Linked DNA regions of Homo sapiens. The protein of the gene in region 1 interacts with the protein of each later gene in a pairwise test. Each region holds a gene or a part of one and is shown in the gene's direction. Other genes may lie near its edges.

Region 1 (7,025 bases):
CACTGCTATGAGATCAACTTTTTTATCTTCTGCATGTGAATGTGACCGTGCAGTATTTGTCTTTGTGTGACTGGCTTATCTCACTTACATATCATTCTCCAGGTTCATCCAGGTTATTTCAAACGGCAATATTCTGTTCTGTTTTATGGCTGAATAGCATTCCCTTGTGTATTTATACCACATTTCCTTTATACACTCATCCGTAGATGGACACTTAGATTGCTTTCATTTCATAGCTATTGTGAATAGGGCTGCAACAAACATGGAAGTGCTGACATCTCTTTGACACACTGATGACACTCTCTTTGGATACATGCTCAGTAGTGGGATTCATGGATAGTGTGATAGTTCCATTGTTAAAATATTGGGGAATGTCCATACTGTTTTCCATGGTGGCTGTAACAATTTACATCCCACCAACCGTGCATAAAGCTTCCAATTTCTCCACATCCTTGCCAACACTTGTTATATCTTGTCTTTTTAATGTTAGCCATTCTAACATGCGTGACTCGGTATCTCTGTGGTTCCGATATGCATTACCCTGATGATTAGAGAAGGTGAGTGTTTTTTCACATGCCTGTTAGCCATTTGTATGTCTCCTTTTGAGAAATGTCTATTCAGGTCTTTTGCTCATTTTTAATAGGATTATTTGTTTTCTTGCTATTGTGTTGTTGGAGTTACATTTTGGAAACTGACCCCTTACTAGATACATAGATTGTCAATGTTTTCTCCTATCGCATAGATTGTCTCTCCACTCTTTGATTGTTTCCTCTGTGGTGCAGAAGCTTTTTAGTTCAATGTAATCCCATTTGTGTATTTTTCCTTTTCTTGCCTTTGCTTTTGAGGTCCTGTTTTTAAAATATCGTTGCCCAGAACAATGTCATGGAGCTTTCCCCCTATGTCTCCTTCTAGTAGTTTCACAGCTTTGGGTCTTCATTTTAAAGCTTTAAATCATTTTGAGTTGATTTATATACACGCTGAGAGATAAGGGTGGAAATTCATTTTTCTCAGATGAATATCCAGTTATTTTCAACATCATTTATTGAAGAGACTGTACTTTCTCAACATTGTGTGTTCTCGGGCCTTTTGTCAAAAATTAGTTGACTGTAAATGCACAGATTTAATTCCGGGCTCTGTATTCTGCTCCATTGGTTGATGTGTCCGTTTTTATACTGGTACTGTGCTGTTATGCTTACTATAGCTTTGTCATATGTTTTGACATCATAGTGTGATGCCTCCAGCTTTGTTCCTTGTATTCCAGACTGCTTCAGCTGTCTGGAATCTTTCATGGTTCCATACAAATTTTAGGAGTATTTCTTCTATTTCCAAGAAGAATGTCATTGGTATTTTCATAGCAGTTGCATTGAATCTATAGATTGCTTTAGGTTACGGACATTTTAACAATATTTTATTCTTCCTGTTCATGAACACATGATATATTTCCATTCATTCCTGCCTCCTTCAATTTGCTTCGTCAATGGTTTATAGTTTTCAGTGTTGCAATCCTTCACCTCCTTGGTTAAATTTATTCCTATTTTAATTTTTTTGAAGGTGTTGTAAATGGGATTGTTTCTTGATATCTTTTCCAGATAGTTCCCTATTGGTGTATAGAGATACTACTGATTCTTGTATGTTGGTTGTGTCTCATGCCACTTTCCTGAATTTGTTTATTAGACCTAGTAGCTGTTTGGTGGTGTCTTCAGGGTTATTTATAAGTAACAGCTTCCCGTCTGCAAACAGGGCCAATCTAAATTCTTCCTTTTGAATTTAGATGCCTTTTGTTTCTTCTTGCCTAATTTCTCTGGTTAGCACTTCCAGAACTATGTGCGATAGAAAGGGCAAAAGTGGGCATTTCTGTCCTGTTCCAGGTCTTAGAGGAAAAGCCTGCAACACTTCCCCATTCAGTATGATGTTATCTGTGGGTTTATCATATATGACCTTTATTGTGTTGAGGTGCACTCCTCTTATACCTAATTTGTGGAGTTTTTAGTCACGAAGAGGTGTGGAATTCAATCAAATGCTTTTCCTGCTGAAATTGGAATGAACCTATGGCTTTTTTCCTTCATTCTTTTCACGTGATATAGCACATTTATTGATTTGTGTATGTTGAAACTTCCCTGCATCCCAGGGATGAAGTCCTCTAGAACATGGTGAATGATTTTTTTAATGTGCTGTGGAAATTGCTTTACTAATACTTTGTTAAAGATTTTGCAACTGTGTTGATCAGGAATTTTGGCATGTAGTTTTTTTTGGTTTTCTCTTCTTTCTGTTTCCTCATCTGGGTTTTCTACCAGGGTAATGCGTTGTGACAGAATGAGTTCGGAAGTGTTCGTCTCTTGTCCGTTTTTTTTTTTTTTTTTTTTTTTTTTTTGGAATAGGTTTAAAAGTATAGCTATTAATTATTCTTCTTTATATATAAATTTGGTAGTATTAGGAAGGGAAGTCATTCTGTCTTGGACTCTTCACTGATGGGGGATTTTTTATTACTGAATCACTTTCCTTACTCATTAATGGTCTGTTCAGATTTTCCATTTCTTCACCATTACATCTCGGTAGGTTGTATGTGTCCAGGAATGTAGCCATTTCTTCTAGCTTGTCCTATTTGTAGGCAGATGATTGTTCATAATCTTCCTTATGATACGTTTTGTTTTGGTGATGTCATTTGTGCTGTGTCCTTTTTCATCTTTGATTTTAGTTATTTGAATCTTCTCTCTTTTTTCCTTAGTCTAGCTAAAGTTTTGTTGATTTGCTTTACCTCTTCAAGAAACCAAGTCATTGTTTCATTGATATTTGTATTGTTCTTCTCATTTCTATTCATTTATTTCTGCTCTGACCTTTATGATTTCTGTCCTAATTTTGCATTGCATTTTTTTCTTGTTTTTCTAGTTCCCCAAGGTGCAGTGTGAGGTTGTTTATTTAAGATGTATCTTTTCTTTTGAGGTAGGTTTTATTGATGTAAACTTCACTTTTAGAATTGCTTTTGCTGTATTTCATGGGTTTTCGTATGTTGTGCCTTCATTTTGCTTCAACTCAAGAAATGTTTACACTTTGCTTCTAATTTCTTCATTGACCCATTGGTTATTTAGGAGCATGTTGTTTAATTTCCATCCACTTCTAAAGTTTCCAAAGTTCCTACTTTTATTGATTTCTAATACTTTACCGTTGTGGTTAGAGAACTGATTTGATGTTATTTCAAATTCCCTTAATTTGCTAGTACCTGTTTTATGACCTGCCCCATAATCTATCCTCGAGAATGTTCCACATGCAGTTGGAAAGAATATGTGTTTTGGAGTATTTGGATGGAATGTTCTGTAAATGACTGTCAGGTCCATTTGGTCCGGAGTGCAGATAAATCCCACTTTTTGTGGGGTCAATGTTCTGTCGGGACAATCTGTTCATTGCTGCAAGTTGGGTGTTGAAGTCCCCTACTATTACTGCATTGCACTCTATCTCACCATTTATACCTTAATGTCTGCTTCATATATTTAGGTGCTGCTATGTTGGGTGCATATTTTTGGAAATCATTATATCCTCTTGATGAATTGACCCCTTCATCATTCTATAATGATCTTGGTCTCTTTTTACAGTTTGTGATTTAAACTCTATTTTATTTGAAATCAGTTTAGCAGCTCCTGCTCTCTTTTGGTTTCCCTTTACATGGAAGAATATCTTTTTTCATGTCTTCACTTTCAGTTTACGAATGCCCTTTAAGGAGAAGTGGGTCTCTCATAGGTTTGATTGTTTTTGTTGTTGCTTTTTAAATGTATTCAGCTACTCTGTGCATTTTAATTGGGGGATGTCATCCATTCCTATCAAGGTAATTATTGATAGGTAAGGATTTATTGTTGTCATTTAGATAATTTTTTTCTATCTATTTTGTAGGTAATTTCTTCCTTTCTTTCTCTTTTACTGTTTTCATTGATGGATAAGAGATTTTTCTCTATTAGTGTGTTTTGTGGTTTTGTTTGTATTTGTTTTAGTGTGTCTATTACAGGATGTTTTTCTTTGTGGATAGCATGAGGCTTACGGAAACATAATCACGGCAGATTATTTTACTGATAACATAACTTTGATCACAAAATACAAACACTTTACTATTTAACTCCACCCTGGGATTTTGAGTTTTCTATTTCACACTTTACAATTTTTTATATTTTGTATCCCTTAACAAATTATTGTACTTATTTTATTTTTACTAGTTCAGTTCTTTAACCTTTACATGAAAGATATAAGTGATCTGGAAACCACCATTACCTTATTAGAGTATTCTGAATTTGTGTCGTTACCTTTACTGGTGAGTTTTATACCTTCAGATGTTTTTGCATTACTCATTAGCGTCCCTTACGTCAGTTGGAAGAACTCTCCCTAGCATTTCTTGTAAGACAGTTGCGGTGGTGAGGAAATTTCTCAGCTGTGATTTCTCTGTAAAAGTCTTTATCTCCCCTTCACTGCTGGGTACATTATTCTTGCTTAGAGATTTTTTTCCTTGTGTTCCTAAAGTATACTATACTACTCTCTCCTGGCCTATTATGCTTCTGCTGAGAAGTCTTCTGGTAGGCATATTGGAACTGCCTTATATGTGATTTGCTTCTTTCCTCTTACTGCTCTCAGGATTCTTTCTTTATTTTTCATCTTTGACAGTTTGATTTTAATATGTCATGGGGTAATCTTATTTGGATTGTATCTGAATGCAGAACTTTGGTCTTCCAGTACCTAGACGTTTGTAACTTTCTCTGGGTTTGGATGGCTCTCCATTATTATTTTTTAAATGATCTTTTTACCTCTTTTTCACTCCTCCCTCTTGAATGTGAATGACTCATACTATTGCTCTTCTGATATTGTCCCAGAAATCTAGTTTTTTTTCATTCCGTGTCCTTCCTTTTAATTTTGTCTCCTCTGACTGTATATTTTCAATGAACCTGTCTCCAAGTTTACAGATTCTTTCTTTTGCTCAATCAATTCTTCTTTGGATGTTCTCTATCGTGTACTTCCTTCACTGTATTTTTCAACTTCTGGATTTGCTTGGTTTTTAACAATTCTTTCAATCTTTCCTGCAACTTACTTTGATAAATCCTGAATCATTTCTCTGTAATTGTTTTCAAGGTTCACAGAGCATGTGGAAAATAGATATTTTGAATTATTTGTTAAACAACTCATATATTCCTGTCTCTCTAGGGTCAATTGCTGGCACCTTGTTTTGTCAGTTTGGTGATGTCATGTTTTCCTTATTGTGTTTGATCTTTGTGGTAATGTGTTTATATCTGCGTATTGAAGAAGTAGGTATCCATTTCGGTCTTTGCAGTCTAGCTTTTAGGGGACATCCTTTAGCAGTAAGCCTGTCCAGAAACTCTATATAGGTCTCTTTTGGTCCTTATGCTTGTGAACACTACAGCTATTGAAGCACTAGGGGGATGCCTATTCACAGGGACACAGCGGCAGGTGCTAGGATGGCTGGGATTCCCCTAGCTATTGAGGCTGGTCCCTTGTGAGACTGGAATCCAAGCCTCCATTCACTGAGAACTCCCTGTTGCTGTAGATTATTCTGAGCATAAGGCCACTGGAATCACTAGGGAGAGATGTGGGCCAGATATTGAGTTTGTTTTGCTGTGGCTGTGGCTTCCTGTCTGGTGCCAGGGTGGGTCTAGAGACTCTGTCCACAAGTACCATCTGAGAGTCAGGGGCCATGGGCATCTGTCAAGTGGTGGCCTGATATTGGGTTCCTAGGCAATGTCCTATGCTTGCTACTGTCTCTCTCCTCTGGATGGATGGTATCTCTATTTATGCTTTGCTGTTGAAGGTCGGGGAAGGGGTGATGTGGGTAATGTAAAACTGTCCTTACTACCCTCTTCAGTGCATGTTTTCTTATTTTCATGCTATAACCGGGTACCATGGTCTCTCACCTGGTTTCTTTATGTCAAGTGACGATATTTTCATACAAGGATAGTTTTTCACATTGATGTTTCTGCAGGAGGACAATCACTGGAGAGTCCCATTTCTCCATCTTGCTCCCCTCCTCCTCTATCTGCTTAATTTTTACATACTATAAATATGTCCATCTTGTCCATGTGGCTTCTGGGTTCAGGAAGTATCCTTAGGCTAATTCTAAGACATAATTTACACAAGTATTCACTTAGCTTTTCTTCTGAAAGTCATTCATTTATTTATATCTAAACATACAGCCAGCCTGGGTTTGCTTTTCATGTGCAGGACTGAGAGAAGGATCCACATCTTGTTTCACTACTGGCTACTCAGTTGTCCCTCAACATTAATTGTATAATCCACATTGCCCCTTTTTATTGAAATGCCACTTGTGTCATACAACACATTATCGTAAACATTTGAATCTATTTGTACCGGCTGTTGTGTTGGTCGTCTTTGCAAGGCATAAGAAACAGAGCTGGGAGCCATGAGACATGGGCAAAGCTTTAGTCTGCATATGTCTGTGAGTTGGCGTGGAGTCAAGGAACAGAGAGGTCCGAGGGTGCTGTGGATCATCCACTGGGATACTGACGGAAGTGGTGATAGATATGTGGATGGGAGGCTAATGCCTCATTCCTTCATGACAGTAAGTGAGGGGATAATAAACATCAGATTGGTATTGACAGCTGGAAAGACACCAGTTTAGAAATGAGAATAGCAGCAAACTAGGCTATTTTTAAAACCATGAAAAATTCTTTACAACTCAGTGGCTCAAGTTTCCATCAGAAGTCTCTGCTCAGCAAATGCCAACCCTAGGATTTTATCCTATAGTTAAGTCAGGCAAGTAGTCCAAATGCTATGACACAAGTGAAATGTCTAATTATGTGAAATTGGGTTAGTAAATTACGGCACATCCATTAATTGGGATTCCCTATGACTCTTTCCGTCCTCTCTTGTTATTTAAAAACTTTTGTGTTCATTTAATGTGATACTTTAACACTGAATACCATGCTAATTTGCTTTTAAAACAGGCATTTACACATGTATATATATTTGTGCACAGACAAAAACATCAGGATGAGTGTTACTGCCAAAAATGTAGTCCC
Region 2 (7,025 bases), on another chromosome or scaffold:
CTATTAGGTTGGTGCAAAATTAATTGCTGTCTCTGCCATTGAAAGTAGTGGCGAAAACTGCAATCGCCTTTGCACCAACCTAATATGTACTGATATAGAATAATTTCTAAGATACTTTAAGTACCAAAGCACGGGGGGGGCAATACATATTTATTTATAAATATATAAACTATTTCTGGAAAGAGGAATAAGAAACTAGAAACAAGAGAACTGGATAATTAAGACACAGGAGAAAATGAGACTTTATAGTCTGTAGGAAATCTTTTGAATTGTATTTCATTTGCAGGCATCGTATGTTCAAAATAAATACATTTTTGTATACAAGTTGGTGAAGGGACCTGTTTAAAAAAAAAGACATTTCCAGCCAGGCGTGGTGGCTCACGCCTGTAATCCTAGCACTTTGGGAGGCCAAGGCATGCGGATTACCTGAGGTCAGGAGTTCAAGACCAGCCTGACCAACATGGTGAAACCCCATCTCTACTAAAAATACAAAAAAAATTAGCCAGGCCTGGTGGCGGGTACCTGTAATCCCAGCTACTCGAGGCAGGAGAATCGCTTGAACCCAGGAGGAGGAAGTTGTGGTGAGCTGAGATCGCACCACTGCACTCCAGCCTGGGCTACAGAGCGAGACTTCATCTCAACAAAAAAAAAAAAAAAAAAAAGATGTTTCCACGTGACAGCTGTATTTCCTCTGGTTAGAGGCAGTGGAGTGGTGATTAGAAAGGCTGGGAAGGAAGGATGGGCTCAGATTTCTGATCATCACCGCTCACACTGAGACCTGACTCTCCACAGCAACAGGCGGAGGTGGCCCACATGTCCCAGACCCAGGAGGAGAAGCTGGCAGCTGCCCTCAGGGTGGAGTTACACAACACTTCGTGCCAAGTCCAGAGCCTCCAGGCTGAGACAGAATCCTTACGTGCCCTGGTAAGTGGGCCAAGGAAAGACCTGGTGTCCTTGTGCTAATTTTAACTCTCTACTGTCAAATTCCAGTATTATGGATCTTAGTTTCCAGGGGATTCCCATCTCACAGCATATGAGTTTTGAGGCCTGAAATGTCTTCTGACTCCCAAGGATCATCAGATACTGAATCACAGCAGGTGCAATAGACACTGTAGTGCCCCACGGAAATATCTCTTACCAGGCTGCTGCAGTAAATGTTGACTGTTAACATCTGCAGCCGCCCCTTTTCAGCTGCCCCACTGCTCCAGAGACCTGCCCTTACCCACACTGAGGACACCTGGCCCAGAAGGTTAGGCCCTGCCCCCCAAGGCTCAGCCAGTGACTAAGAGGGGGCTTTAAAATTAAAAGCCCAGCCCTTTTGCTTCAACATGGAGCTAGCTCCATGCTATAGAGCTCTCCATAGGACCAGGCTGTAGCCAGATTCCAGAGACCACATCCTCGCTTAGTGCCTTCCTCTGCCCTGTCCTGCTTTCCTCACTCCCCCTTTTCCTGAGAGTACTCCTTAATGATTTGCGAGTTCCAGGATCCCTAACTCAGGCTCTGCTTCTGGAGAACCCAACCTGAGACATCTAGTAAGCTCTCAGACTCACTGGGATTTGCAAGCTCGTCTCTTTCATTATTAATTATTTATTAAAATATTAAAATAATAAAATGTATTAATAATGAAGCAATCCACCCTCTGATCTCTGGAATGGATTGAAGTTCTATTTGGGTATTAAACATCTTTTCTTAGATGTCCCCTCCAGGAGGTCATTTGCATTGTTCTAACTACAGCTTCGTTGGTGCAAATCAAAGGTTGGTCCATGTAATCCTTGTGCAGCTGAGATGGCCTGGAGTCAATGAGGCGCATGATAGGATGTAGGTCCGTGCAAGCATGTATAAGAAAAGGATCTGAGGATCTGAGGGGAGGAAAATCAAGAGTAATAGAGTCAGAAGGGCTCAGCTCCTCCATTTATCCCTTGGGTAAAGAGGCAAATCCCTGAACCACAGTTTCCTCTTCTGCAAAATGGGTATGATAGTCACAGTCCAGCCCACTTCTCAGTGTTTCTAGGGGGATCCAATGTGTGGATGCACATGAGCATGCTCTTCTGACTCTTAGCATTATTTTGAGAACTTGCTATGTTCCTAGAACTGTACCAAGTGCTTTGGAGACATAAAACTAATGAGATATGGTCCCTGCCTCCAAAGAGTTAATGTGGCTTCGGTGGAGGAGCTGATACAAATGTGAGGGAGGGGCAGATGGGAGAGAGCACCCCTGCTGTGGGAGTCAGGAGGTAGACTTCGTGGTGGGTGCTCTCCTCACTCACTAGCTATGTGAATGAACAGCTTTCATTTTCTCACTTGTAAAGTGAGGATCTATTTTGGCTATCATATCTAGTTACTGTCTTAGTAGCTTAAGACAACAGTGAATCACTTGTTCTCTCATTCTGTGATTTAGGCAGAATTCAGCAGGGATAACTCTTCTCTGTATCATGTGGCCTCTGCTGGGGCTGGAACACCCAAAAATGGCTTCTTCATTTAGCTTCTCTGGTGACTCAATTGTGCATCTCTTTTTCTCTCTCCCTGTGACCACTCCGTGTAGCTAGCTTAGACCTCCTCATATCATGACAGCCTGACATAGTCAAACTTCTGATATAGCACCTGAGTGAGCACAGAAGCTACCAGGCCTCTTAACACCTGGGCTCGAAAGTCTCTGGACATCACTTATACCACATTCTAGTGGTCAAAGCAGTCACAAGACTATCCTAGATTCAACAGGGAGAGAAATAAATTCAACTTCTTGATGAGACAATGGCAAGGTCACATTGAGAAAGCGATTGTGGAGTGGAGATAATTGTTGTAGCTGCCAATGCAAGTGTGAGCCACTTTAGGATCGTAATAGAATTTACCTCATAACGTCATTGAGATGATTAATTTGATAATGTATGTCAAGCCCTTAGCACAGTGCCTGGCAGTTAGTGAGCAGTCAATAAATGCCATCTATTATTAATTATCATATAAAATTGCTATAATAGCTACTAGTACAGTAACTCCAAGTTGGCATCACCAGCCACCTGGTCACCTCACTTAAACCCAGGGTCCTAACCATTGGGGAAAAAAATGGAAAAATAATTTACACTCTCAACCAGAAAACTTCAGAGTAGTGCCATTCTGTCTATGCCCATAGCCCAGAACAGGCTGCCTCTGTTCCCTGCTGGTTCTAGTAGATTATCGTTCTGGTCACGGGGCCTTGCAGCCAAGGTGAGGAGCACAGATTGGGACAAAATAGGTAACAAACTCTCATACAGTTTTCAGATACAGGAAGTTCATCCAGCCATTCCTGTTATTCTGTCAGAGCGATCTGTGCACACACAAGGCCCCCGCAGCTTATATAAGCTTCAGACAGCCAAGCTGGCGAGACTTTCGGCCCCCTTTGCCAATAAGGCACTATTTGCATTGGAAGCTAGGCACAAATAATGGTGCTTGAGACCTGCTGAACTCTGTGTCCAGTCAACTCAAATCAGGAATGGAATTCAAGGCCAGAAGTCACAGAAGGTCACTATTTTACTTTCTGGAGGATTTTGCAATCCCAGAAAGTCCCTTCAAATCTCCAGAGACCTGCAGAATAAGTGTGCTTCTGTGATCTCAGCTTGTTTGCTGGTGCTGTCTGCGTGGCTGACTGAGCCAGTGTACTTGCCTGCAACAGTAGCCTGATCATAGTCACTCCAGCTCAAGCATCTCTGGGAGAACCAGGCATCCTCTCTTTCTGCCATAATGTCAGGGACTTAGGTGGGGAAGCTGGATTCGGACTTTAAGGGTGAGATGGAAGACACATATAACCTTTGGCTGGGGTTCCAATGAATGCCCTGTTGGCAGTGGGTCCTAAGTCACCATGGAAAAACCTCAGGCCACATGAAGAACTCACCTAGAAGATGGAGCAAAAACTATAGACAGATGATCCAACCGTGATTCTGTGAAGCGTGTTCCCAAATCACAGATGTTACAAATCCAATGTCAACAACAACTAGTCACAAGTTAAGTACTTTCATGCATAAACAAAGAGAGAAAACCCAGGGAGGTTGGAACAAATGATGCTCAAAGTCAAGGTGGCCATTTCTGCATCCTCACTGCTATAGAAAGGTTTCCAGATTCTATTAGTTAAATAATAACCCTAGACCAGATACTGATCTAGATTTATTTTCTAGTGATCACGTTTTGCCTCTTATAAATATGCCTCAGACAGATGAGAATCTGACTCAACATTCTCATATCCTATGGAATTAAGAAGATTTAAATAAGGTAATATGGTGATCCATGCTAACAGCAGTCATGATTCAAGATGGTGTCGTGACAGAATTTTCTGTTTCATCCATAGTGGTCATAAGGGTGTAAAAAGTCTCCTCCTGGAGGACAGGGTACAGAAACTTGTTGCATCAAAATTTAATTCAATCCAATTTAGAAAGATATTTGTTTTTTGTGTGTTATATTAAAAAGCCAGATGCTAAAGTATAGGTGAACCATAGTTAAAACTATTGGAAAATGTTGAACACAGATACAGTTTTTTAAAGGGGTTTATTGATTAGCTCTGTAGTTTTCAGGACATGGTGCATGGGAAGATGAGAAGAAAGAAGTTTCCAGTCTAATGGGGAGACATAGATAGTGCAATAAGTGTAACCATAATACAAGTGCTATCATCCAGGGCAATCTACACATACCAAGAACCTATTCTGTGCCAGGCCCTGACTTGTGTGCTGGGACTACAGAGACTTGGTTCCTTCCAAGTCTCACCATCTGGTGGAAAAGACGTGCCCATAAGCAAGCTTAGCCCACTGTGATAAGTTCAAGAGCATGCATGAGCTTGGGGAGCCATGGAAATACAGAGGGTCTCCTAACCCAGCTTGGTGATGGTAGCGGCAGAGGAGTTTCAAGGAAGGCTTCCTGGGGCAGGTTACCTCTAAGCTTGGACTTGGGGATGAGTAGGAGTGAGTGAGGTGAGGATGCTGGAAGGAATGGAGGAGCATGGTGCAGGTGGAGGAAAGAACACAGACCAAATAAACTCCAAGACTGGAAGTGTTGATGCTGCTGTAGGGTGGGGATAAAGATGGAAACATACTGGGCCAGCTGTGTGTGCCATATCAGGGGCCCTGGGGAGCCATCAATGGAGTTTAAGCAGAGGAGATACAGGCCCAGGTTTGGGCTTTGGACAGAGTACTGTGGCTATTTGTGTGTGGAACTCAGGAAGAGGAGGAACTAGAGGTGGGGAGATGAGCTAAGAGGCCACTGAGGGTACCACAGGTGAGAGGTGACAAGCTCCCAATCCCAGACCATGGTGGCTGCAGAATGTGAAAACTTCTCAAGAGATACAAGAAGCAGGACTCATAATATACAGGAGGCCATGATGGTTGCATTTGGAAGGAAGAGAAGGAAGGAAAGCAGGAACACATCTTTCCCTGGTTTCCAGCTCACATGGGTTCACCCGTTGAAGCATAGACTAGGGGGAGCCAGCAGGTTCAGGAGGCAGCCAGTGGCTTCATTTTGGACACCTTGATGTGAGGTCTGAGTATATGTTTCCAGTAAGAAGTTCAGTGGCAGGTCCATAGCTACTGAAGGAAAGATTGGTGGTGGAATTATCAACGCAGGACGTGGCCTGGAGACGACTCATGAGTATGTTCAAATCATGAGTATGATGGAGACCAACACAGACCCAGGATGCGCTCCTTGGAAAAAAAGCGGGCTCAGGGTGGGCACTGGGAAGCCCAAAGTGAAGGGACGGCAGAGGAAAAGGGATGGGCAAAAATGTGCTACTAAAACACCAAAGGGGAAAGCGCTGAGTATATAAAGGCCAGAGACATTCATTCTAAGGACAGTGATCTGGGAAAGAAAGCTGGAGGAGATGGTGTTCCAGCCAAATGATGGATGGGGTTTCAGCAGCAGAGGGAGAAGGGGTCCCCCGGGGAGTGAAGAAATCAGAAGAAAAAGCCCCGGAGAACAAGATTTCTTTGAAGAAACGCCTGCAAGCTGCCTCTCATTTGTCTCTCTCAATCCCTATCCCTCTTGCCCCGCTCCTCTCTCTCCTCACACCCCCTTTCTTTTCTCCCTCCCTCTCTCCTTCTCTTTTTCGCCTCCCTCACCCTCTCTCCCATCAAAAAGATCAATCAGACTAATCCACAGTCTGACCTGAGTGGGATTCCTTATTTTTCCCACGGAGCCACTAAGAATAACCCCCATCAGTCTCCATAACTGGCAAGGTCCCTGCCACGAGGGGAATAGTCCAGGCTACCACCAGCCCCTGCCACTGCTCTGCACACCTCCCTCTTCAAGGGCCCGGCCTGTTGTCCTCGGGTTTGGACCGGGTTCGCTCTTTTGTAGAAACGAGGCCTGGAGAACACCTTGCACGATGCCAAGCACTGGCATGACATGGAGCTCCAGAACCTGGGCGCTGTGGTCGGCCGGCTGGAGGCGGAGCTCAGGGAAATCCGAGCGGAGGCGGAGCAGCAGCAACAGGAGCGCGCGCATCTGCTGGCCCGCAAGTGCCAGCTGCAGAAGGACGTGGCGTCCTACCACGCCCTGCTGGACAGGGAGGAGAGCGGGTAAGCCTCGCTTCCGCGTCAATTATCCAAGAGATGCATATTCATGGCTTTAAAAATAATTATTTTCCAAACACTGTAGAAGTATTTAAGAAGAAATCACCCCAGACTTCCTCTCACATAGGCACCCATTCCCACAGCCTAGCTGTGTCCTTCCTTTCCTATTCACATACAAATAATATATATAATATATTCACATACTAATACATTTTCTATATGTATGCATATTTATGTATGTATATATACACACATACATTCACATACATGTGTATACCTAGGACGTACATAATAGCTGTTAGGAATGTTTCAGTTGCTTGTAATAGAACCTAATTAATGAGGCTATAAACCAGTGCTCCTGAAACTAATGTGCACTCAAAACCCTGCGCATCTTTTTTTTTTTTTTGGATACAGGGTCTCGTCTCGGTATGTTGCCCAGGCTGGTCTCGACTCAAACCCCTGGGCTCAAGTGATCCTCTCACCTAAGCCTCCAGAATAGCT
Region 3 (7,850 bases), about 32 Mb from region 1:
AGAAGAGGCCAATAGTAGATTCAGGCACAGAGACAAAGAAGATCCTAATACTGCCTTGAAACTCAGGGCCCAGAAAGATGTTGACAGTGATAGGGTCAAACAAGAACCCAGGTTTGAGGAGGAAGTCATTATTGGGTCCTGGTTCTGGGCAGAAAAAGAGGCCAGTTTGGAGGGTGGAGCTTCAGCAATCTGTGAATCTGAGCCAGGAACTGAGGAGGGGGCCATTGGCGGATCCGCGTACTGGGCTGAGGAAAAGTCCAGTTTGGGGGCTGTGGCCAGAGAAGAGGCCAAGCCGGAGTCTGAAGAAGAGGCCATATTTGGGTCCTGGTTCTGGGACAGAGATGAGGCCTGCTTTGACCTAAATCCCTGTCCTGTGTACAAGGTCAGTGATAGGTTCAGAGATGCAGCTGAGGAGCTTAATGCATCCTCCAGGCCCCAAACCTGGGACGAGGTCACTGTTGAATTCAAACCTGGTCTTTTTCATGGGGTTGGCTTCCGATCCACAAGCCCCTTTGGAATTCCCGAAGAGGCTTCTGAAATGCTTGAGGCAAAGCCCAAGAACCTGGAACTTAGCCCAGAAGGAGAAGAGCAGGAATCTTTGCTTCAGCCTGATCAGCCTAGTCCTGAGTTCACATTTCAGTATGATCCTTCCTACCGGTCAGTCCGGGAAATTCGAGAGCATCTTAGGGCCAGGGAGAGTGCAGAGTCTGAGAGTTGGTCCTGCAGCTGCATACAATGTGAGCTGAAAATTGGTTCTGAAGAGTTTGAAGAATTCCTTTTATTAATGGACAAAATTCGGGATCCTTTTATTCATGAAATATCTAAAATTGCAATGGGTATGAGAAGTGCTTCTCAATTTACCCGAGATTTCATTCGAGATTCAGGTGTTGTCTCACTTATTGAAACCTTGCTTAATTATCCATCCTCTAGAGTTAGGACAAGTTTTTTGGAAAATATGATTCACATGGCTCCACCTTATCCAAATCTAAACATGATTGAGACATTCATATGTCAAGTGTGTGAGGAAACCCTTGCACATAGTGTGGATTCCCTTGAGCAGCTGACTGGAATAAGGATGCTTAGACACCTCACTATGACTATTGACTATCACACACTGATTGCCAACTATATGTCCGGGTTTCTCTCCTTATTAACCACAGCCAATGCGAGAACGAAGTTTCACGTTCTGAAAATGCTATTGAATTTGTCTGAAAATCCTGCTGTGGCAAAAAAACTATTCAGTGCCAAAGCTCTTTCAATATTTGTGGGTCTCTTTAACATAGAAGAGACAAATGATAATATTCAAATTGTTATTAAAATGTTTCAGAATATCAGTAACATTATAAAAAGTGGAAAGATGTCCTTAATTGATGATGATTTCAGTCTTGAGCCGCTTATTTCTGCATTTCGTGAATTTGAGGAGTTAGCTAAGCAACTACAAGCCCAAATAGACAACCAAAATGATCCTGAGGTGGGACAACAAAGTTAATATGATTAACCACCTGCCGCTGATCAGCCTTATGTTCCCAAAGAGCCCTGAGTAGTGCTTTGGTGTTCACAGTCTGTTTTTTTGTTGTAACTTATATTTTTTAATGCTGATGTTAACTTTGTCAAACTCTTGTTTTGAGCTGGATCATTTTGTGGATGCCAAATGAATATCAAAACTGAAAACACATTTGTTGATATTTGTCTTGCTGTCCAGATTGCGGTATTTTTCAGTATTAAGTTTTCAATGAACTGTGTCACCTAAGTAAGCTACCCTGCTATTCGTTGTTTAAATATATGGTTCTCTATTTGAGTCTGTGTTTTCAATAAAGTTCTATGTTAAAATTGGCATAAGTGACCCTTCTTCAGTTTAAGAACCATGTACAGATAAATCGTGTGCACTTACAAACATAGGTAATTATTAGTATGACAAACATGCGCTTATTAGAAAATTCTGTTCTTGAGTTAAGAAGGGAGAGATTATTGTGGGCCCTGATACTTGAGGAATGTTTCCGAGAAGAGGGACCCACTTAAATTGGTCAGGATAGAACAAATTGGTCAGGATAGGAGAGCAAGACAACTTGCCCGCCTGCTTGCCCAATTATGAGCCTTCCCAACAAGCAACCTAAAATTAATACTTCTTATAGGACCCATTTAAATTACCATCTTAGCCCTGGGATTTGCCTAAGGGTAGGATAAGACAAATCATTAGGTTGCTCTTGGAAGTGGGCAGTGGTGGTTTGAAGAAAAGTGTGTAATTGAATAATCTGTTCTAGTAGCATGGATGAACCCAGTCTGCTTGAAACAAGTAAAAGGAGTTTGATGAGAAATGCAGTTAGAAAGTTGGGAAGAGGCCAATTTGGGGAACAGAATAAGCCAAATCTGCATATTTAACAATTCAAAGTACAGGTGTTACTTCAATGCCACCTAAAGGCTGAAAGAGTAGGATAGCACAATTAAATGGAGTGGGGAATATGATTTCCTTTATATTCCTAGACAAAGGAAAGTGTTAAGGAAATACCATGCAGCCGTTGGAATGATTATGTATGGATAGGTTTATTGACACAAAAGGACATTAATTATTTTATATTTGGTGAAACAGAGAATGTGACATCATGTATGGAAAATTAGATTCCATTTTTAAAACATCTGTAAATGTACACAATTCCTATGCAATTTCAATATGAATTTCTAAACACAGTCTGGAATAAAATATATACCTTGTTAAAAAATGCTTAGAGACAGGCGTTGGGGAGATACAAACATTAATAAGACAAATTAAAAAATTAATATGCTTACATTTTGTGCCTTGAGTTATAGATGAGCATGCCGGAAAGGACAGAATTATATAAATGAATAAACTATAAGTGTTAAAAAATGATTAGAGATAATATCATTTAGAAAAGTTGTAAATGAATGAGCTATCAGAAAGACTAGCTTTTTATAAAACGTTTTCAAGATAAAAATTAAAATTGGCCAGGCACAGTGGCTCACACCTGTAATCCCAGCCCTTTGGGAGGCCGAAGCGGAAGGATTGCTTGAGCTCAAGAGTTCAAGGCCAGCCTGGGCAACATATTGATGCCTTGTCTCTACTAAAAATAAAAAAAATTAGCCCAGCATGGTGGCACGCACTTGTCCTAGCTACTCAGGAGGCTGAGGTAGGAGAATCACTTGAGCCTAGGAAGTTGAGGCTGCAGTCAGTCATAGTCACACCACTGCACTCCAGCATGGGTGATGTGAGTGAGACCTTGTCTCAAAAAAAATAAAATAAAATAAAATAATCAAGGGTGGGCCAGGCGCGGTGGCTCACGCTTGTAATCCCAGCACTTTGGGAGGCTGAGGTGGGTGGATCACTTGAGGTCAGGAGTTCGAGACCAGCCTGGCCAACATAGCGAAATGCTGTCTCTAGTAAAAATACAAAAACTTAGCCAGGCATGGTGGTGTGCGCCTGTAATCCCAGCTACTGGGGAGGCTGAGGCAGGAGAGTCGCTTGAGCCTGGGGGGCAGAAGTTGCAGTCAGCTGAGGTCGCACCACTGCACTACAGCCTGGGTGACAGAGCAGAACTCCGTCTCAAAAAAAAAAAAAATTACCAAGGGTGTTAAGTTTAATATTAGTCTGTTCATGGTACAAAAATGGCACCTTTTTCACATAATTATTACCGTAAAAAACATAACATTTCCTTTTGAGGTGACAACAAAGTTCTGGAGCTAGATAGTGGTGATGGTTGTACAACATTGATAATGTACTGGGTTGTATACTTTAAAATGGTTAAAATGTTAAATTTTATGTTATGTGTATTTTGCCACGATAATTTAAAAAATGACCACACAATACCTTCAGTCAGGAGAATTGGAAGACAGGGCTATATGTTGGTTTGGAGAGGAAATTCAGACGTACGAGAAATATCCAATGTTTTATTATTTTTAGACATAACATTTATTTGTCTGAGAATGTTCTAAATTTTCAAAGGTAAAATTACAATTCATGTAAATGTAAAAAGAATATGTGAAAGATTTTTCAACACAATCAACAACTGCTAGGATTAAGAAAACAGTTGAAGGGTATATGTGTATATACAATATACACAATATGAAGATATAAACAAAACATTGAATTTCATAAACACATAGGAAATTAATAAATGTTAGAATAACACTGCCAGGTTAAATATAAAACGGGTTAATATCTTACAGGGCAATAAATTGTAACATTTAAGGTTTTCTATTGCACTGGACATAAATCATTTACATATTTATTGAATAAAATATCTACATGTTAACATCAGTGTCTACAGAGTTGAAAAATAGGTAAATCAATAGACATCCTGCACTGCCCTGAAATGACATCCAGTAACTGAAGGTGACTTTATCTAAGTTTGGTATAATTTTTCTGACAGTGCAACATGCTTTTTTTCCCCACCTGATCCTAGTTTGGTAAGGTAATATGGAAGTGGCAGTTTTGCCTCCCATCGCAAGCCATAAGTTTTAACAGGGATTATCCTGGTGGTGCAAATTGGAGTTTGAATGTTTGTTTTGCTTACCAGCATTTTTCAAGACAGATCTGTGTGTGTTTTAGTATGTCGCTTGAGTCGTATACAAAATATTAAAAATCACTTCATTTCCCAAATCCTCATCGAATGTTCCTCGCCAGCCGAGTGGTCCTCCAGAGCAAAGGCCAGCCTTCCTTCCAGCTGTCTGGCCAAGGAGCTTCAGGATCTTCTAGCAAGCACCCCAGAGGCAGAAGACTGTCATCCATGGTACAGGACTGCGGCGAACAAGCTGACTGCGCAGTCACGTGGGGCTGACGGTGGGTCATGTGACCAGGCTCTGCATTAGGCCTGCCGAGAGGAGTGTTTTCTTGCATCCAGAAAAGACCTGAGAGGCGGACGACACCTGTGCTCCGCAGAGCAGAACGTGGGAGGAACGGCGGGATGTTAAGGTAGGTAGGTGTCTTTCCATGCTGCATCAGCCTGAAAACTAATTTCTCAGGCGACTGGAACTACAGCATTTGTTGGTAAAGGAAACAATCCGTCAGCCAACCGGGAGCGTCTTAGCCCGTCTGTCTTTTGTCCAGGAGCTCAAGAAGCAGAGAGTCTACCTGCCCGACGCGTTCGTGGAGAGGAGCAGCGGTTGCTGTTGGAGGAGGTGGGTGCAAGGACGGCAGATGGCATCCCTGAGAGGTGGTGACTGAGACTAGATGCGGGTGCAGGTAATGCCTCAGATCCGCCTGCTCCCTCCTGCCTTTTGAACACCCTTGACCCCTCATCCCAAGGCTCCCAGCCCAGTGCCCTGTGTTTGTATGTGTGGGTGGGGGAGGTGGGCATATGGATGGAGTTGGCTTCAGGGGAGCCCAGAGCGGGGAAATGGTGAAGTGACAATTCGTGAACACCTGTGGTGCTGGATCAGGAAAGGCAGGGGTGGGGATGGGAACCGTGAGCTATGCGTCCGCACTCATTCTACTCTCTGTCTTCTTACTGGCAGTATTCAGGCAGTGGGGATGGCTGATACCAGCTCAAAACTGGCGGAGGGTGGAGGAGGGCAGAAGAGAACACATACATCTGCCTTTTGCTCCAAGGCTCCAGCTGGCTGGGGATGCAAGAGAGGAATGAACCTCAATCCCGGCAGTTCTAGGAAAAGGAGGAGGAGACATAGACTCGAGGGGAGGAAACCTAGATGCTGTGGGCCCTTCACCTAGGATTTCTCATTAGGATACTCCAAGCTTCTCGACCCCCAAGGGGATTCCTGGATCTCAGCCCCATGCAGCAGGATCTCATTCCCATTGAGGGACACAAAGTGGGTTGCTACTCCGTGTGAGCTCTCTCTCCCTGCTGTCTTGGGCCTCAGAGGAGGGTCTTTCTGGGGACCACCTACAGAAACTGCTTCATGGATAGTCTCCTAAGTTTCCCTCTGCATACCCTTTGCTCTCTTGTGTTGTGATCTCTGCTCATTCCTTAGGATGTGTTTCTTTGGTCCCATCCTAGGTAGCAGCCCCATGGTAAGTCCTTGTCCTCTTTCACATCGAGTATCCTCCTTTCCCCCTACCCCATGCACCCACTGGGTACCAAGTGAAAGAAAATGGTTCCTCTACCCACAATACTTCTGGCACAGAATGTGTGGATTTTTCACACCAAGCAATTCTCTTATTCTTTGAGGACATCAGCTAGGTATTCTACAATTTAATTCAATTCTGATACTACCCAGAGTTAGTGCAGACCTCTCTGGTTAAGGGCTCATTCCCATAAGACTGCCCTCCCTCACTTCAGACAACAGTCACAAGTAATGGATCTCCATGTCACCCACACTTCTGTCTGACTTAGCTACTAGTTGGAAGTTCCCACAACCCCCTCCTCAGGTTCAATAATTTGCTATAAGGGCCCACAGAACTCAGGGAAACACTACTTCCTATTACTGGTTCATTATAAAGGATATAAATCAAAAGCCAGATGAAGAGGTACATATGGCAAGGTCCAGAAGGGTCCCAAATGCAGAAGCTGCCATCCATGTGGATTTGGGGTACACCACCTTCCCAGAATATGAATGAGTTCACCAACCTGGAACCTCTCAGACATTTGGGATTTTTATAGAGGTTTCATTACATAGGCGTGATTGATGAAATCATTGACCATTGGTGATTAGCTCAATCTTCAGCCCCTCTCTTCTCCTTGGAGGTCAAGGGGTGAGGCTGAAAGTTCCAACCCTCTAATCATGCCTTGGTCTTTCTGGTGACCATCCATATCTTGAAGCTATCTAGTGCACCCACCAGTCATCTCGGAACATAAAAAAAGACACCTATCACTCCAGAGATTCCAAGGGTCTTAGTGTCAAGAACTTGAGACTAAAGCCACATGTAACAAAAGATGCTTCCGTTATCCCTATCAGGAAATAGCAAGGGTTCTAGGAGCTCTATGCCAGGAATATGGGACAAAGAATTATGGTTACCAAAGGCTGGAAAGGGTATTGGGGATGGGGTATAAAAAGGAGTTGGTTAATGGGTACAACAATACAGTTAGAAGGAATATGATCTAGTGTTCAGTAGCACAATAGGGTGCCTATAGTTAACAATAGTTATTATATATTTCAGTATAATTAGAAGAATAGATTTGGAATGTCCTCAGTGCAACAAAATGATAAATATTTAAGGTGATGTATATCTCAATTACATTACACATTCTATGCTTATATCAAAATATAATTTATACCCCATAAATATGTACAAATATTGCATATCCATGTGAATTAAAAATTTTAAAAAATTTTAAAAATAACTCATTTCAAATTTCAATCAAAATAAAAAAGATCAAATGCTGATTTCTTCATATATCACAATACATACAAAGTCAGTGTAAGAAAGTGTTGCTAGGAAGAAATGACTTTTTCTAATCCCACTCCTATCCTTATGTTTATACCAAGTTTATAGAGTTGAAACTATGTTGTTCTACTACTTTAAGCCCTCCTATTTAGACTTAAAAGCTAGGATAGATACAAGGTATGTGGGGCAAAATCATAGGTAGAGATTAGTCCCTAGGACTGCATCCTCGTCTCCTACCCTCTCCTATTATTTTCTTCTCTTTACTCTCCAGAATTCTGATAATATAAGTACTGGGGCCAGCATTCAGCTTATGGTTTTCTACTCAAGCTGTCTTGTCTCTTGTCTCTGTGTGTTTTTTCGAGTATGTCAACAGAGAAGACTTCAAGTATGGTGTGGTATAATAGAGAATATAGCTGATCTTTATCCCTAGTTGCTGACACAGCTTCAAAAAATCTTGGAATTTCCTGTGTGACAGGAGTATCTTTGTTATGCTAATGAAGTGACTTATGGTGGGCCCCTAGATAGCTTCAGGATGGGGACTGGTCACCAGAAGGAC
Region 4 (7,081 bases), on another chromosome or scaffold:
GCTGAAGGTGGTGAAATTTGTCCTGCAGGTCCCTCGGGAGATCCTGGAGCTGGAGCATGAGTGTCTGACAATCAGAAGCATCATGTCCAATGTCCAGATGGCCAGAATGAATGTGATAGTTCAGACCAATGCCTTCCACTGCTCCTTTATGACTGCACTTCTAGCCAGTAGCTCTGCACAAGTTAGCTCTGTAGAAGTAAGAACTTGGGCTTAAATCATGGGCTATCTCTCCACAGCCAAGTGGAGCTCTGAGAATACAACAAGTGCTCAATAAATGCTTGCTGATTGACTGATGGATTAGCTGTGTGTGTGTGTCTTGGTCTGCCACCACCCCTGCTGCGGCCCTTTTCACCCTCTGTGTACCCTTTACTTGTTCCTTTCTTCCCTTCCCCCTTTCCTTTCCATCTTCTTCCATCTATATCTCAGCAATTAAGCATGGTGGTTCCACAGCTGGGTTTGGATCTTACTTCTGTTATCTGCTTACCATGAGAACATGGGCAAGAGCCTTCGCCTCCATGCCCCAGTTCCATCGTCTGTAGAATAGACCATCACGGAGCCTGTATCCTAGAAAGGCTTAAATGAGTTCATGAGTCTCAAGACCTTAGAATAGTTAGTCTGGCACCGACGGAGTTCCAGAGCAATTATTATTCATACAGGCTTTCCAGAATTAAAGCAGGACTGTTATGGGATGAATTGTGTGTCCCACCCCCACCAAAAGATGTGGCCATTGTAACCCCCAGTGCCTGTGAATGTGACCTTGCATGGAAATAAGGTCTTTACCAATGTCATCAAGTGAAGATGAGGTCACTCGTGTGGACCCTAATCCACAATGACTAGTGTCCTTATGAAAAGGAGAGATTTCGCCGGGCGCAGTGGCTCACGCCTGTACTCCCAGCACTTTGGGAGGCCGAGGCAGGTGGATCACAAAGTCAAGAGATTGATACCATCCTGACCAACATGGTGAAACCTCATCTCTACTAAAAATACAAAAATTAGCTGGGCATGGTGGCACACACCTATAGTCCCAGCTACTCGGGAGGCTGAGGCAGGAGAACCGCTTGAACCCAGGAGGTGGAGCTTGCAGTGAGCCAAATCATGCCACTGCACTCCAGCCTGGTGACAGAGTGAAGACTCTGTCTCAAAAAAAAAAAAAAAAAAAAAAAAAAAAGGAAAGAAAAGGGGGGATTTAGGGGAGGGAGAGCATTATGACAAATACCTAATGCATGCAGGGCTTAATACCTAGGTGACGGGTTGATTGGTGCAGCAAACCAGCATGGCACATGTATACCTATGTAATAAACCTGCATGTTCAGCACATGTATCCCAGATTTGAAATAAAATTCTTTTAAAAAAGGGGGGGGGATTTAAAGACAGAGACAGGCATGTATACAGAGAGGAAACCATGTGAACATGGAAGCAGGGATTGGGGTGAGGCTCTACTGACCAAGGGCCGCCAAACTATTGCCAGCAAACCACCAGTCATCCGAAAGAAGACCTTGATAGCAGAAGGATCCTGTTCAGAATTCTGTGTTGCATTCAGTCGTAGCTTTTTTTTTTTTTTTTTTTTTTTTTTGGACAGAGTTTTGCTCTTGTTGCCCAGGCTGGAGTGCAATGGCACGATCTTGGGCTCACTGCAACCTCCGCCTCCTGGGTTTAAGCGATTCTGCTGCCTCAGCCTCCCGAGTAGCAGGGATTACAGGCATGTGCCACCATGCCGGGCTAATTTTTTTGTATTTTTAGTAGAGACGGGGTTTCTCCACGTTGGTTAGGCTGGTCTCGAACTCCTGACCTCAGGTGATCTGCCCACCTCAGCCTCCCAAATTGCTGGGATTACAGGTGTGAGCCATCGCGCCCAGCCTCGGCCATGTCTTCTTAGTCTCCTCCAATCTCGAACGGTTCCTCAATCTTTCCTTGATTTTCATGACCTTGACATTTTTGAAGCTTACAGGCCAGTTATTTTGTAAACCATCCCTCCATGTGGGTTCGTCTGACGTCTGATTATGATGAGATTCAGGAATCTTACAGAAGCGATGCTGTTCTCGTGACATCCTGTCAGGTGGTGTGAAATTCCAACTTGTCACATTACTGATGATGTCCACTTTCATTGACTAAGATGGTGTTTGCCACGTTTCTCCACTATAACGTAACTCCTTTGAAATTGGTATTTTGTAGGGAGGTATTTTGAGCTCTGTAAATATCAAACTTCTCACTTAGCTTTTTATTTATCTGAGTATGGACTCCTGGTTTCTTCTGTGGTCCTGTATAATTTGTTACTATCATTATTTATTTTGACTCTCAAACTGCCCAGTATGGCCAATGGAGCTTCTTCAAGCAGACTCCTGTGTTCTTTCCACATGTTCTCACAACACTTTGAGCAATTTCTTGCTTTAAGCATAGGACGTTTGTAGGCTCATCTTGTTCTTTTTTTGCTCTAGACATGGAATCAGCCAAATTTCCTAGGCACTCTGGTTCCATTTGGTGGAGAATGGTATATAGAAGTCAAGATTTGGATGCTAGTGGTGCTCATTCATATGGGCCATCATTGTTTCTATGTTCTCTTAGTGGAGAGAGCTAGAGAATATGTGTACAAATGTTCCTATACACACTGAAACTATGTGTTTATTTTTATCTCTCTATGTATAATTGAGATCCATGAGGACATACCAACGCCTCCAGTTATAGTCCAACACCACAGGGCTCATTCGACTTTCCTCCTTTCTGTCTTAGTAACTCCCTTTTCCAACAGTAGGAGACCTGGCCCCCATTCCCCTTACTCACTGTGTGTAGCCAATTTCCCTTTTCCTTTGCCATTTCACCCCTGTGGGGATGTCTTTCCCAGCCTAGTCTGGCTTCAACACCATACACCATGCTATTCCCATGAGTGGACATTTCTCTCTCTGCTTGGGTTATGACAACCCATGCCAGATCCCCTCTATGTGGCCTCCTTCCTAATTGCCTTACAGTGCAAACCTCCACCCCAGACAATGCCTGCATATAAATGCCCCCGCCCCACTCAGCTCATGTTCCAACACTGCACACCAAGCTGCCCATCTGTGGATTTATCCCCACCATCTCCAGCCCCAACACCCTGGGTCATGCTGCCCCTCTATGTGGACTTCTCCTCACCCCACTACCCCACTGGAATGCTGGCTCTCCACGCCAGATGGCCCCCAGCCCCCTCCTCCCCTAACCCTACCTAGTGTGGAGTCGCAAAACCCCTTTGGGCTTTGACACCACCATAACTTCACACCCTCCCTGACACCCCCACCTTGCTTTTTCCCTCTAAATCATTCAGGAAAGACAGAAGGAAAGAGATGAACAGAGGAAGAGCAAATGCCATGCTCTTAGTCACCGTGTACGCCCACTTCCTGAAGTCCATGCTTGCATCCTGCTCACTCTCACACATTCCCGACTCACCCAGGAAAACTCCCTGAGGCCAGGGGTGCTGAGCTCTCCATCTCACTGCCCAGAGGCCAGTGTTGGAGTGACCCTTCACATGCTTGTTGGAACATTGAATAAATGATGCCGTCTGCTCTAATCCTCCATTTTCTTTTCTTTTTTTTCTTTTTTTTTCTTTTTTTCGAGACAGGGTCTCACTATGTCAGCCAGGCTGGAGTACAATGGTGCAATCGTAGTTCACTGCAGCCTGGAGTGCAATGGTACAATCATAGCTCACTGCAGCCTTGAACTCCTGGGCTCAAGCAATCCTCCCATCTCTGCCTTTGGAGCAGCTGGGACTACAGGTGTGTGCCACCATGCACGGCTAATTTTTTTATTTTTTGTAAAGACAGCCTCTCCGTATGTTGCTCAGCTGGTCTCAAACTCCTGGGCTCAAGCAATCCTCCCACCTCAGCCTCCCAAAGCGCTGGGACTACAGACATGAGCACCACATCCAGCCTCTAATCCCCATTTATAAAATGCACTTTCCAATTCCACTCTGGGGATAAAGGCGTCACAGAACCTGACTCTGCATTTCCCCACCCATATCATTCAAGCCAGATGGGGAGGCAGGGACAGCTCTGGTCCCTCCCCAACCCGGGTAGAGATTTCCAGCCCAGCTGTCACAGCTCTAAGACACCGGGACCGAAGGAGAAGCCAAGAGAGGCAGGAAGAGGTGGCAAAGGAGTGCTGGAGAAGATAAGGAGGCTGAGCTCCGACAGGGAGCAGGGAGGAGGGGCCATCTTGAGACTGGTGCCCTGCGAGCTCCACCCCACCCCTCCATGCAGTTCCCCATGGGCCCCGCCTGCATCTTCTTGAGGAAAGGCATTGCTGAGAAACAGCGGGTGAGGTGGGGAGTGAGGGGGAAGGGCGGTGGGCGGGGCAAAGGGAGCAGGGGTGTGGGACAAAGAAGGGGACATGATGGTGCCACAGAACCAGGGGAACAGGTGGATAGAGCAGGAGCTGAGAAGGTATAAGAAATTCCAAGGACCCTGGTGGGGTCATGTAAGCCAGTGAGATAAATGGGTGGGGGTAAAATCAAAAGTCAGGAGCAAAGAGAAGGAGAGAAAAGGAAGAAAAATGAAAAGGGAAAGTGGGATGATGTCATTGTTGAGATTACCATCATTCTTTTCTATGGATGCTCATTGTGATAATGGTGGTGATGATGGTGGTGGTGGTGATGATAATGATGACGTTAATAACAATAGCTGCCACTTATTAAGTCATTGTTCTGTGCCCAGCCCTGTGCAAAGGGATTTGCACACCTGATGTTATTTACACCTCAGAACAACTCATGAGGTCAGTGACTTTCATTCCCATTTTACAGGTGAGGAAAGTGAAGCTCTGAGTCATGAAGTCATTTGCCTTAAGCTTACACAGTTAGTAAGTGGCAGGGTCGGCCAAGTATAGTGGCTCATGCCTGAATCGCAGCATCTTGGGAGGCAGAGGCGGGAGGATCACTTATGTCCAGGAGTTTGAGACCAGCCTGGGAAACACAAGACCCCATCTCTACTAAAAATACAAAAAAATAGCTCAGCATGGTGGCATGCATCTGCAGTCCCAGCTACTCAGGTGGCTGAGGCAGGAGGATCGCTTGAGCCCAGGAAGTGGAGGCTGCAGTGAGCCCTGATTATGCCACTGCACTCCAGCCTGGGCAACAAAGTGAGACTTTGTCTCGTTAAAAAAAAGTAAGTGGCAGGGTCGGGTTTGCTTGATTCCTGTGGGCATGCTTTTTAAAATTTTTTTATTTTTCCATATATACCAACTTGTCCAGATATGTGGGCATACTTTTCATTGTTAGGCTTTAAGATCACCAAAAAAAGAGAATAAAAAAGGCCAGGCAGTGGCTCACGCCTGTGATCCCAGCCCTTTGGGAGGCCAAAGCAGGTGGATCACGAGGTCAGGAGGTCAAGACCAGCCTGGCCAAGATGGTGAAACCCTGTCTCTATTAGAAATACAAAAATTAGCCGGGTGCAGTGGCAGGCGCCTGTAATCCCAGCTACTCGGGAGGCTGAGGCAGGAGAATCGCTTGAACCCGGGAGGCAGAGGTTGCAGTGAGCCGAGTTCGTGCCACTGCACTCCAGCTTGGGTGACAGAGCGAGACTGTGTCTCAAAAAAAAAAAAGAGAGAGAGAATGAAAAAAAGGGTGATAAGGGACCGCAAGGAGGGGATCAGATGAAAGAGAAGCTGAGGGAAAGGCTCCAGGGATAAAGGGAGATGGGAAGGCTAAAGAGACCAGAGGTCAGTAGAATTTCCTTGTTAACATGCCATGTATATGTAAGCCCAACCCTTCAGGTATGTGCAGGAGTAGGTGGGGCAGCAATAACTGGACATTCTCAGAGTGTTTAGGAACTGGTCATGCTGGCACTGACCCTCCTGCCTGAAAGCCATTGAATGCTGTTTCCATGCACAGAGATTCTAACCTTTGGCAGGAAGATTGGAGGCAGGTGAGAAAGGAGTGAATGGGGGCTAGTGTGAAGAATTCTGACTTGGGAGTCAGGAGCCCTGAATTCAAATCCCAATACTGTGTCTGACTTGCCCCATGACCTCCAGGGAGCAGGTGAATGCCTTCCTCCCTTGGGAGGGGATCTGCTGCTTGTGAGCTGTGTGACCTTGTGCAGGTTCCTTAACCTCTCTGTTCCTCAGCTTTCTCATGGGTAAGATGGAAACGAGATGTAGATCTGCATCACAGAGCAGTACTGAGGTTTAAATGAAATGATTGTGGAAACTGCCTGGCACAGAGTCACCACTCTGAATGAGTTAGCTGTGGTTGTGAAGTCTCACTTTTTTCATCTGGAGATTGGACTCCCCAGTGTTTAAGACCCCCTTTGACACAATGTGATGGGTGTTTGTCTCAGAAAGGGAGAAAAAGGGAGATTGGGATTCGTGGGTGGGAGAGAGACATCGAGAGGGGGGTGGGGAGCCAAGAACTGTGGAACAGGAGTCAGGAGATGGGAAAAGGAATGGGAGGGATGGAGGAGGAGAGAGAGAATGGAAAGAGAACCACGAGAGCGTGGGGAGGAGCTTGGGAGAACAAGGAGACCCTTTGGAGAATGGGTGACCCTCTCTCCAAATTCCCTCTCATCTGCATTCCTTTCCAGGAAAGACCACTGGGACAAGATGAGATTGAAGGTAACACCGTCTTCCCCAGTTGCTTCCACGTTGCCATCCACCCACCTGACCTGCCCTCAGTCCCTTTGTGCATTTCCGTATAAATTCCATTACATGGAATTTTTACAATCCCTCTCTCTTCCCACTCAACTGTAATTTTGTAGAACTCTTTCTCGTGGCAGTTGAAGGACTTCCCAAAGTATTTCGAAGGCATATCCATCCTCAAGTATCTCCAAGACTCAGGAGTGAAAACAAATGAGTTTCTCTCTTGGTGACTTTGAGGTTCCCCATAACTTCATCCAGGAATCTGAAGGACGCCAGTGCTCTCATTTAGTGGTCTCAGGAATGATGCCTCTTTTGCTAACACATTTCATACATCACTCCTTTTTGAATTTTTTTTTCTTTTTTGAGACAGAGTTTTGCTCTTGTTGCCAGGCTGGAGTGCAATGGCACGATCTCCTCTCACTGCTACCTCCGCCTCCCAGGTTCAAGCGATTCTTCTGCCTTGGCTGAGGCAGCCTCCCTAGTAGCT

Evidence for each region.
Region 2: the proteins of CT55 (region 1) and BFSP2 interact in binary tests that used the Homo sapiens proteins (3 or more experiments, as listed by UniProt).
Region 3: the proteins of CT55 (region 1) and GPRASP3 interact in binary tests that used the Homo sapiens proteins (3 or more experiments, as listed by UniProt).
Region 4: the proteins of CT55 (region 1) and CABP5 interact in binary tests that used the Homo sapiens proteins (3 or more experiments, as listed by UniProt).

What each region holds. Positions count from the first base shown.
Region 1 is NC_000023.11:135,161,383-135,168,407, reverse strand, and holds part of CT55 (cancer/testis antigen 55), read left to right. Parts: intron 1-7,025. UniProt on the Homo sapiens protein: Plays a role in spermatogenesis, possibly acting in the regulation of the autophagy pathway.
Region 2 is NC_000003.12:133,466,036-133,473,060, forward strand, and holds part of BFSP2 (phakinin), read left to right. Parts: intron 1-792; coding exon 793-924; intron 925-6,309; coding exon 6,310-6,530; coding exon of another isoform or gene 6,531-6,534; intron 6,535-7,025.
Region 3 is NC_000023.11:102,715,898-102,723,747, forward strand, and holds the start of GPRASP3 (G protein-coupled receptor associated sorting protein 3), read left to right. Parts: upstream 1-4,845; 5' UTR 4,846-4,928; intron 4,929-5,059; 5' UTR 5,060-5,194; intron 5,195-5,466; exon of another isoform or gene 5,467-7,850. Other genes in the region: GPRASP2 (G-protein coupled receptor-associated sorting protein 2), read left to right, coding at 1-1,489; ARMCX5-GPRASP2 (G-protein coupled receptor-associated sorting protein 2), read left to right, coding at 1-1,489. UniProt on the Homo sapiens protein: Survival and differentiation promoting protein that plays a role in the regulation of neurosynaptogenesis. Induces phosphatase PP2A activity which results in APP dephosphorylation and inhibits BACE1-mediated processing of APP.
Region 4 is NC_000019.10:48,041,062-48,048,142, reverse strand, and holds the start of CABP5 (calcium-binding protein 5), read left to right. Parts: upstream 1-4,063; 5' UTR 4,064-4,220; coding exon 4,221-4,283; intron 4,284-6,539; coding exon 6,540-6,570; intron 6,571-7,081. UniProt on the Homo sapiens protein: Inhibits calcium-dependent inactivation of L-type calcium channel and shifts voltage dependence of activation to more depolarized membrane potentials. Involved in the transmission of light signals.